Linked DNA regions of Homo sapiens: region 1 is linked to region 2. The links come from fine-mapping of genetic effects on gene expression. A gene starts in region 2. The other region holds a variant in brackets. All regions are shown on one strand. Distances are between the middles of the regions. Region 1 overlaps PLA2G6 (phospholipase A2 group VI). Region 2 holds the start of PLA2G6 (phospholipase A2 group VI).

The links. PIP is the estimated chance that this variant, and not a neighbour inherited with it, causes the effect.
Region 1: its variant is fine-mapped to the expression of PLA2G6 in tibial nerve (GTEx, PIP 0.91).

What each region holds. Positions count from the first base shown.
Region 1 is chr22:38,124,258-38,129,585 of GRCh38, reverse strand. PLA2G6 (phospholipase A2 group VI) reads left to right here. Exons shown (of 17, transcript NM_003560.4): 8 at 24-132; 9 at 1,156-1,317; 10 at 3,137-3,215. Among named protein-coding and RNA genes, the nearest start is that of BAIAP2L2, 16 kb to the right of the region's middle. The variant T/C (reference allele first, on the strand shown) is at 2,706.
Region 2 is chr22:38,178,585-38,183,954 of GRCh38, reverse strand. It overlaps PLA2G6 (phospholipase A2 group VI), which reads left to right and starts at 2,125. Exons shown (of 17, transcript NM_003560.4): 1 at 2,125-2,291. RefSeq lists enhancers at 1,853-1,962, 1,879-2,173, 2,123-2,572, 3,203-3,272, 3,553-3,722.

The sequences.
Region 1 (5,328 bases), 54 kb after region 2:
TATCCTCTCTCCATCTCCAACAGAAAGACAACGTGGAGATGATCAAGGCCCTCATCGTGTTCGGAGCAGAAGTGGACACCCCGAATGACTTTGGGGAGACTCCTACATTCCTAGCCTCCAAAATCGGCAGACGTATGTGCTCTGCACTCTGGGGCTGGAGTGGGGTGAGGGTTGGGTGGATACAGGGACCGAGGAGGAGGGAAGTCCCAGGCATCAGGTGCCAGCATCCTGTGCTGACCCGCCCTGCTCAGAGCTGCCAGGAGCACCTCGTACTCAGAGAGGGGGCTTCCTTACCCAAGCACAAGGGCCCTGAGCAGTAGATGCAGGCCCACCACGGGGCTTGCTATACCAGCATCCTCTCCCGTGCAGCGCCCCCCACCTCAGGGAGCTAAGATTCCCAGCAGGGGTGGGGACAGGAGAGCCAGCAGCAGCCTTCTTTCCCCACCGTTGGGGAATTCACTGATGGAACCACTGGCTAGAATGACCAAGGGTGCATGCACTACACTGCACGAGCTCTGGGCATGCCTGTGTGGGCAGAGTGCATGGCCATGTGCTGCACGCTCGCACAGTGAGCCTTAGCTTCAGAGCTGGACAGAGCAGATCCTCCTCACCAGAGGCCTGGAGCCCGCTCTGGAGGGTTTCAGCAGCTGTGGGGGTCACTGTGGGCAGGTACCTGATGGCAGCAGTGTGTGTGTGCCAGTGCACACGTGTGTGTCTGCATGCACCGCATCTATGACCTCCTTTTCAGCAATCCCATCCATCAAATGGAGTAGGTGCCCCCTGGCTGGCTCATTAGTCCCTTTGGAACCCTGAACTATCACTTAGCATTTTTGAGAATCACTGAATGTGGCCATGGGATTCCTGCTTTCTTGGCTGGAGTAGAAGGAAAGAAGGGGTTCCCACAGGCATCGGGCAGGGTGACACTGACCTCCTCCTCCCATATCCTCCTTCCCTGGCCTTAGGAAGCTGCTTGGGATGTACCAGCCTGGGGGCAGCACTCCCTGTCAGGGTGGGCTGAGGCCTCTGGAGCAGCCCACGTGCCCAGGGCCTGGGAGCTGGGACAGGGGACGGAGTGTGGAAAGGAGGGGCCTCTCCTTTGCATGTTGACATCATTTCTGATCCTGTGCCATCTCCCCTTCCCCAAACCATGACAAGTTGTCACCAGGAAGGCGATCTTGACTCTGCTGAGAACCGTGGGGGCCGAATACTGCTTCCCACCCATCCACGGGGTCCCCGCGGAGCAGGGCTCTGCAGCGCCACATCATCCCTTCTCCCTGGAAAGAGCTCAGCCCCCACCGATCAGCCTAAACAACCTAGGTAGGCCTCGCCTCCCGACTCCCTCTTCTCCAGCTGGTTCCCAGGCCCCTGGATCACAGCAGGCCCCACCAAAGCAACAGGATCCCTAGGACGGAAGTCACTAAAGGAAGCCGGGGAGGATGGGGCCGGAGTTGTCAGCCTCTAGGCAGCCAGCAACCCACAGATCCCAGAGGCCTAGGGTGTCCCTGGCTGATGTCCCATGCTCCGTTGCCCCTGAGAGGATGTGTCCTGCACACAGTCTCAGGCCTGGGCATTTCCAGTGGCACCCATGAGGTGGCTGCTGTTACTGCCCTCCTGTCCCCAGGGCGTTCAGGGTGGGCAGTGAGGAGTGCTGTCGGGGGACTGGGGGCCCGGGCCCTCTGGCTTCACCTGTCCCTCTGGCTTCACCTCTATCACACTGTTTGAATCTCGGTTGGGCCTGAGACCTGTGTGCCCCCTTCCTGGCCCCGTGGTGACTTTCAGACGTTGAATGTGGCCAGGCAGCCAGCATCTGCCCCGGTGCATTCCTTGGTGCCCAGGGAGACATCCCCAGACTAGACAGGACCCTTCTCTGGACTTTCTGTGGGCTGGCCCACTCAGGGACCTCCATTGTTTGGGAGCGGGGTCCCCTGAACAGAGGGCAGCCAGGAGCCAGTCCTTGGTGAGCCAGACTTCACTGTGGAGGCGGCAGCACCTTCAGCCAGGGTAGCCCGACCAAGCCTGGAACTCTGGAGAGGCACCGTGACTGTGGCTTCTAGTCCTGGCTCCACCTCTCTCTCCCCTCCCAGGAACTCCCCCTCCACCTCCCATCTTTATCTCTCAATTTTGCAGGCAGTCACCCAAGCCAGGCCGGATGGTGGGCCTGGGGTGCGGCGTCAGATGGGTAACGCCCTGGGCCTGGAGAGGCCACCGAGCCTAGCCATGCGGCATTAGCTCTAGCTCTCACTCCCTAATCCGTCCTTCTTAGCTGCGCACACACCACACGCCCCCTCCCCTGCACCCTGTCCCCGGCCTCTCTCAGCCACTCTTCTGCTTCCCTTGTTCACTGTGGAGCCGTGTGCCCTGGGGAGGGGGAGACACCGCTTCGCAGCCCTCGGTTCTGCTTTGCTGCTTCTAGACTCTGCACAGTGGTGGGGGGCTGTCAGAGTTGGGGTCACGCGGGCTGCTGCACCAGGCACCTGGGGACTGGGCTGCTTGTCAGGAGGGGCAGCTAGTCAGTTGGGTGGACGTCAGGCAGGCCTTGGACACAAAGGAAGACATGGACAGAGTGGATGGTGGGCCTGATCCCGGAGGCCACTGGGATTTCCAGACCTGGGATCAGGACGAGGGATGTCTCCTTTCATCCATGGACTTAAACCCCGAGGAACGTCCTGACTCAGCCTTTTGACTAAATGACCTTGGGTGAATTA[T/C]GGACCCTCTTAGAGCCTCACCTGTCAATAGGGAATAAGAATTCTTAGGCCCCAGGTGGTTATTGCAGCATCGGCTCCGATGCAAGAAGAAGCACTTTGTCTGAAGAGGACACGCAAGGGTATTCATGCCTTGGGGTTTCAAGAGGAAGAGATTGAGGGGAACCTGGGAGCTGGCTGGGCAGGGTGGGGAGCCCTTCCCAGAGCAGTGGGCCCCCCTTTCCACTCCAGCCCATTTCTCTCCTGTGGCCTGTGGCTCAGCTTTCTCCTGGGACAGAGTCCTTCCTGTGGGGAAGGGACAGATGACAGGGGGAGTGGGGGGATGAGGGCGTGGCCGTGGGCGAGGCACAGCCCAGGTTTGATCTAGGGACCTCTGGGGTAGCAGGGCTTGGGGACCCACCTGACCACAGCATGCCCTGCTCTGTGCCTCACAGAACTACAGGATCTCATGCACATCTCACGGGCCCGGAAGCCAGCGTTCATCCTGGGCTCCATGAGGGACGAGAAGCGGACGTAAGTGGATCGAGATCGGGGGCAGAGCGGGGAACGTGTGCGCTTTCCTGCCCCTCACCCACCCCCTGTTGTGGGCTCAGGGCTTTACTCTCTGCACCCTCACAGCCGGCGAAGTGGCTCTGCTCCTAGTCTTATAGTTCTCAGCAGAGACAGAACATGGAGAGCCTGTGTCGCTCGTTCATTAATGCTGGGCGGTGCAGGCTCTGGAGACCAGCCCAGGGTGCCAGGCTTCTTGGACTTGGTGGGGCTGGCGCAGTGTTCTGGCCTCCCTCCCTGATCTCCTTATGGCTAGAAGAGGGGGAGATGCCTGGGTCCCCCCTGGGGAGATCTCAGCAGCTGCTTCCCACTGCTCCTACTGGCTTCCTTAACCACCTCCCACTGCAGAATAGTGGCGTGGGCTGCCTTCCCCAGCACCTGCTGTATACCTAGTCCCATTGTAAGAGGCGGGCCTGGGTGACAGGATGCAAAGAGAAGACGCCCAGGCCTTGCCCTTCAGGCATAATCCCGGGTGCTTGAACTCAGTGCCAGCTGGCACGGCAAGGTACCAGGACAAATGCGTTTCCAGCCACTGTGCTGTCGCCACCTCCCTTGATTGCTGCAGTTGATTCATTTATTCTTTATTAGTCTCTCATGTTCCTAATAGCCTTCCCAGGGAGGAATTTGTAACCTTGTTTTACAGATGCAGAACCTGAGCCCCTGAGAGGTGAAGTGACTTGCTCAAGGTCACACGGAGTGAGTGTCAGGGTGGCAACTCACAGCCGGGTCTTCCGAACCCACGTCCTTTGTGCTACCGCAGGCTCTCTCTGGGTTCTCTGTGGACTCTATACCTAGTGCCAGCCCTCTGCAGGGAAAGCTCTCTTCTCAGAATCAGAGGCAGCTCCACTCCCAGGGCCAGGCAGTGATCGTGCAGCTCTGTGGGTCCTCTCACTTCGCACTCACTTCCATGCTACCCTGTTGTGTGCCCTGGAGGTTCCCCTGCCCCATCAGCATTCCCTCCCCTGTGCCCCCTGCATGCTCTTGCACGCGGGCACACGCACACACACACGCACACATGCACGCACACACACCCACATGCACATGCCTGCGGGTTGCCCACATGCATGTGTTGCCCACATGCAAACACATGGACACGCACACACATGCACACATGCAAACACACGTGCATGCACACACATACACATGCGCACACATACACATGCATGCATGCACATGGACACCCACACACATGCACACACATGTACACACATGCATGTACATACACACACCTGTGCAGGGGCTGAGGTGAGGCAGCTGCACCTGAAGGGGGGACCCACATTTCCCAAGGGAGGAAAAGCAGATTCCCCAGATTCTGGAGCCTCAGAACCCTGCCTGGAGCGGGGCTGAGGCAAGAGTCAGGAGACCCCTCGGTAGCTCCCCACTTGGGCCTTCCAAGCTACAGAGCCCTGCGCCCTCTGGGTTGATCTCTGTCGCCAGCCCCGCATCTTCGGGAGTTTGCTTTGGCCTCCAGCAACAGTGTAGTCTCTCCCCTGCCACCTCTAGGCTTGCTGTGGGGCTGGGTACCTGGTCCAGGAAAAGACCCCTAGAGGTGGGACCCGGGCCTCCTCCATTTATCAGCCCTCTTGGGCACCTCCTGCATCCCCTTGACACACAGCGCTGCCCAGAGCAGAGGCGGCTTCTGCCCTGGTGGAGCTTCCAGGTCAGCGCAGGAGAGAGTAAAAGAAAGATTGCGAATGGAATGGAAGCAGCCTCCACCAGGAAGCAGGTGGAGCAGCAGGCGGGCTGTGAGGGAGGGTCTCGATGGCATCAGGGCAGGCTTCTCTCAGCTTCATCAAGCTGAGATGGGAAGATGAGAAGATCAGAGGAAGGTTCCAGACTGAACCAACCACAAAGGCATTCCCCCAGGGCATGGCCAATGAGGACAGGCAGGATGTGGGGAGACGTGTCAGGGCGCGCTGGAGAGCATGTGACTCAGGAGGCGGCAGACCTGGGTCCAGGTCCAGTCCGCATCCATATGACTTGGTTCCCGTCACCTAACCTCTGAGCTACACTCCCTCCGTCACTCAAAAATATGCACAGAGAGTAGGCGCAGTGGCTCCTGCCTGTAGTCCCAGCT
Region 2 (5,370 bases):
CATCCTTGACCCCCCGGCCTCCCCTGCACAGTAGCTGGGACCAAAGGCATGCAAGACCACACCTGGATAATTTTTGTATTTTTTTTAAAGACGAGGTTTCTCCATGTTGCACAAGCTGGTCTTGAACTCCTGAGCTCAAGTGATCTGCCCACCTCGGCCTCCCAAAGTGTTGGGATTACAGGCGTGAGCCACTGTGCGCAGTCAAGCTGAAACTCTTAAGCAAATTTTAAATCTTACTTTAAGGAACAATTTCCTCACCTGTAAAATGGGGACACGAGGATATGATGGAAGTGAAGTCACTTTGTAACTGGTAAAGCTCTGTACAGATATTAGTTAAGATGGTTAATTTCATTAACCTGTGAAGATTCTTAACTAAACCTTGCGCAAGTTGCATTGGCTGCCCTGTCTAGGCACTAATATCTTTAGACGGACTAAGGAGGAAACACACTTTTTTTTTTTTTGAGACAGAGTCTGGCTCTGTCACCCAGGCTGGAGTACAGTGGCATGATCTTGGCTCACTGCAACCTCTGCCTCCTGGGTTCAAGCAATTCTCCTGCCTCAGCCTCCTGAGCAGCTGGGACTACAGACTATGGCCAGCACACCCAGCTAATTATTTGTATTTTTAGTAGAGATGGGGTTTCACCATGTTGGTCAGGCTGGTCTCAAACTCCTGACCTCAAGTGATCCACCCGCCTCAGCCTCCCAAACTGCTGGGATTATAGGCGTGAGCCACCGCACCCGGCCTACACGCTTCTTTTCACAAGAATGACACCCGCAACTATACTTCCCACGTAAATGGAGAGCAGTCTGGCAGATTCATCTAGACCTAGGGTTGGGTGATTATTAGGGAAAGAAAAGGTCCAACCAAGCCAGTGGGCTGAAGAGAGGACATGACCTGCTCAGTCCGAAGCAGATGTGTGACTAAAGTCTAGTCTCCTGGCTTCTCTGCAAAATACCTCATTATCGGCATTATTAACCCTAACAACTGCCATTTATTGAAATCCCACTATGTGCACGAATGGGGACCAATTTACTTCTAGATATTACAACAATCTTGTATTACTGTGCCCACTTCCTGGATGATGGGTCTGAGGTTCACAGAGATCATTTGCCCAAGTTCCTACTGAAAGTGCTAAGGTATTTCCTGAGACTGGCTCAGGGTGTGTTGCCAGACAACAATGCACACATTTTTAACACAATACTAAACTTAGTATATTATACTTATGTTAAAAATTTCGGAGCCGGGCGTGGTGGCTCACGCCTGTAATCCCAGCACTTCGGGAGGCTGAGGCGGGCAGATCACTTGAGGTCAGGAGTTCGAGACCAGCCTGGCCAACATGGTGAAACCCCGTCTCTACTAAAAATACAAAAAATTAGCTGGGCGTAGTGGCGGGCGCCTGCAATCTCAGCTACGCGGGAGGCTGACGCAGGAGAATCGCTTGAATCCGGGAGGCGGAGGTTGCAGTGAGCGAGATCGTGCCACTGCACTCCAGCATGGTCGACAGAGCGAGACTTGTCTCAAAAAAAAAAAAAAAAAGGACATGTGGTAATTCCCCTAGGGAATTTGGCCTTAGTTGTGAAAAATAAAAAAGCTATAATCAATTTCTGTTCTATCGGAAAAAAATGTATTGGCTGTTTAGCTGAAATTCAAATGTAACTTAACATCCCGTATTTTTTATATGCTACATCTGGCAACCCTGGCTTGAGGCTACCTGGCAAAAATCAAAACAGGTTCCTCCTTGTTATGCCCTATGCCTCTGTTGCCTTTATTTTTATCTTTACGAGCAATCATTAACAGTAACTTCAGACTCCAGGCTCTGGTCGCTTTAGGAGGCGGAAGGCGGACTAGGGTAGGACTCCTGGCCCTCATCAACAGGACTGCCAAGAAGCCGGGCACCTTCTGCCCCGCACAAACATGGCCGCGCCTCGCCGCCGAGGATTGGCTCCCGCCGAAAGCTCGTCCTCCTGGCTAAGGGAGCCCCTTCCATTGGGCAGTTAAAAAAAATGGCGGACCCCGCCTCCCGCCGTCCTCGGGCGCGGGGGCGGAGCCTAGAGGAGGCCTGGGACAGGGCCACCAGTGATTGGCGGAGAGCGGTGGTCAGGCCATCACGTGGCCCGAGGCCCGTTTGTTTGCGGAAGTAGGAGGAAGTAGAAGTGCTGAGTAAGCCGAGGTGAGTGACCTCGCGGGTGGGCGGGGCCTGGGGGTCCGTTCCCCAACTTCCTCGGCGCTCCGGACTCCCAAGTCTCCGCCGGACCCTCCTTTGGATATTCCTCGTGTCTCCGATTCTGAGGCATGTCCTCCATTAACCCTTATGTGACTCCCTGAGTGCCCCCACCTTCCATCTTTTCATCCCCCTGCGTCCCCAATTCCCATCCCGAGACCGCCCGTGTCTCATCTCGAACTTGTGGACCCCAGGGACCCCAGCTTCGACCCTGAGTTTCTCCCCTGAACCCCAGTCTCCTCCGTGTGTCTCCCTCAGTATCCCTAACTTCCCGAGTCAATCCATCTCTTCTCTTTCCCCGACCCTCAGTGCCTCTTTAGGCCCCATTGGCCGTCCTAATTTTCCTTCCTGTGCTCCTCTAAGTGCTCACTTGATTCCCCACTTCACGTCCGTCTCCACCTTTCGTGGTGCCTCTACTCATTTCTCACTCCCTGCTTCTCCTGCCTTTCCTCCCTGCTTTTTTTCCTTGCCTTTCCTCTCTCGCGTGCCTCCAGACCTGCCCCCGACATGCTCCCTCCTTCCCCTCAGCCTGGCCACCCCAGAGTCTCCCACCCCTAATCCTGTGTCCACCTCCTGCTCCCACAGATGACTTGGAAGCTGGTGACAGGGAGCATGTGACCAGGGTGATCATGGGACTGGGTCGGGGCAAGCCTGTGGGTGTGGGACAGGGAGGGCACAGGGCAAGGGGACCTGTGGCCGTATTTTTAATGGGCTACCCACATGACCCCAACGAATACCTCCCCCTAGCTTCTGGGTCTTTCCCTCACCTGCCTCTTACCCGCCCAACAGGATGTCAGGCAGGTTCGGTTTGGCAACGTTGAGGCTGCACCCTTGGGCTGAATGCATTGTTTTTGAATGCATTGTTTTTGTTAGAGTTTCTGCCTGGAGTTTGGAACCTGTTTTCTGTCCAAGTCTCAGTTTCCTCATCTGTGACAGGGGAACTGTACCTCCTGCCCTCGTAAGTCTGCCATGAGGTTCAAAATTTGAATGAGAAAATGTAGAAGGTAAAGCTTTATAACCAGTATGGCCCTGTACAAATACATGATTTTACTGTTGGGTCATAGGCAGAATTGAAAGGAGTGGAAAGGGAAAGGGCTAGAATGAGAAGACAAGGAGAGAAGGATGAGCAGGAGGTCCCTTGTCTTTCAGTGTATCATTTGGCAGTGTTTGTTCATCACCTCTTGTGAGTCAGGCTCTTCTGTATATGTTCTCTTCACCATTCATTCAGTCATCGTTTATCTAACAAATATTTACGGACTGTCTGATGTTCTAGGCTACCCTTGGTGTGGCCAATGATATTCTCACTTCACATGAGAAAAAGAGGGCGCATGAGTTGCTTGAGGTCACACCGATGAGGTTGAAGCTGGAATCTGACACCAGAGCCTGTGTGATTGTCCTGATGTGTAAGGTTTGCTACTGTTTAGGACACTTCTTGTTCCTTCCGTGGATTACTTTCTTGTTACATGAGAGACTCCCCAAAAGGGAGTTTCCCTCTTACTCAGCAGAATGACATCACTAAGAGATACAGAAAGGAGAAATTTAAATACTCTGTGTGTGTGTGTGTGTGTGTGTGTGTGTGTGTGTGTGTGTGTCTGCAGACATCTATTGGGTGTGTGTGCTGGGGGAAGTAGGTAGGCAAGGAGTAAGGGGCCGTAGTGAAGAGTGTGTTACAAACTTCACTTTGTAGAGGGTGGCTCCCTGGGAGAATATGTTCTGTGTCTTTCACAGTGGATTTTGATAGGGTCATGTCTTAAATGCCTCTTCTCGTTTTCGGATGGTGATCTCATCCAGTCTTATTTCTTTAAGTGCCGTCTCTATTCTGTCAGCCCACAAATTTATATCCCCAGTCCAGTCCAGACCTTTCCCTGGAATGACATACTCAAATCTAGTTGCTTACTCAGCACCTCAAACTTAGGCTTTTCAAACTTGAAGTATTTATTTATTGATTTATTTATTTTTTGAGACAGAGTCTCACTCTGTCACCCAGGCTGGAATGCAATGGCACGATCTCGGCTCACTGCAACCTCCACCTCCTGATTCTCCTGCCTCAGCCTCCCAAGTAGCTGGGATTACAAGCATGCGCCATCATGCCCAACTAATTTTTGTATTTTTGTAGAGGCGGGGTTTCACCGTGTTGGCCAGGCTGGTCTCGAACTCCTGATCTCAAGTGATCCACCTGCCTTGGCCTCCCAAAGTGGTGGGATTACAGGTGTGAGCCACCGCGCCAGGCCTCAAACTTAAGAGTTTAGAATTGAGCTCCTGTTAGTTCTGCCCTCCATCCCTGACCCCACTCTTCACCAAAACATGTCCCTCCCACTCTCTTTCTCATCTTAGGACATAGGAGTATTGTTCATTCAGTTGCTCAGGTCAAAGCTGTGAGATTATCTATGATGCCTCTCTGTTTCTTACCCCACACCCAGCCAGAGTGATCTTGTTAAAATGTTGTTTCTTTGCAGTGGCCTCTCCTCTCATGGCACATGCCTGGCCCCCTGTTGCCTCTCTGATGTCACTGGCTTCCTTGCTTTTCCTGGAACTCGCTAAACATGTTCCAGCCCCATGGCCTTTGCACACGCTCTCTTTGCCTAGCTATTCATATGACTTTCATCTCTCTCCATCAGGTATTTATTTAAGATCAATTTCTTGGTGAAGACTTCTCTCCTCACCCAATCTAAAATTTCACTCTCCACCTCAGCACTTCCTATCCCCATTCTCTGGTTTTTCTCCTCAGTAGTTAATTGTCATCTAAAACCTTTGTAAATATTTACCTGTTTATCTTCTTTATTATTAGTAGCTCTGTCTAAAATATAAGTTCCAGGATGTCAGGGATTTTGTGGGGTTTTTTTTGGTTGGTTGGTTGTTTTGGTTTTGAGACAGGGTCTCACTCTGTTGCCCAGGCTGGAGCGCAGTGGTGCGATCTCAGCTCACTGCAGCCTCCGCCTCCTGGGTTTGAGTGATTCTCCCACCTCAGTCTCCCAGGAAGCTGGAATTACAGGTGCACGCCACCACACCCAGCTAATTTTTGTATTTTTTGGTAGAGATGGGGTTTCACTATGTTGGCCAGGCCGGTCTTGAACTCTTGACCTCAAGTGATCCACCCGCCTCGGCCTCCCAAAGTTCTGGGATTACTGGTGTGAGCCACCGCGCCCGG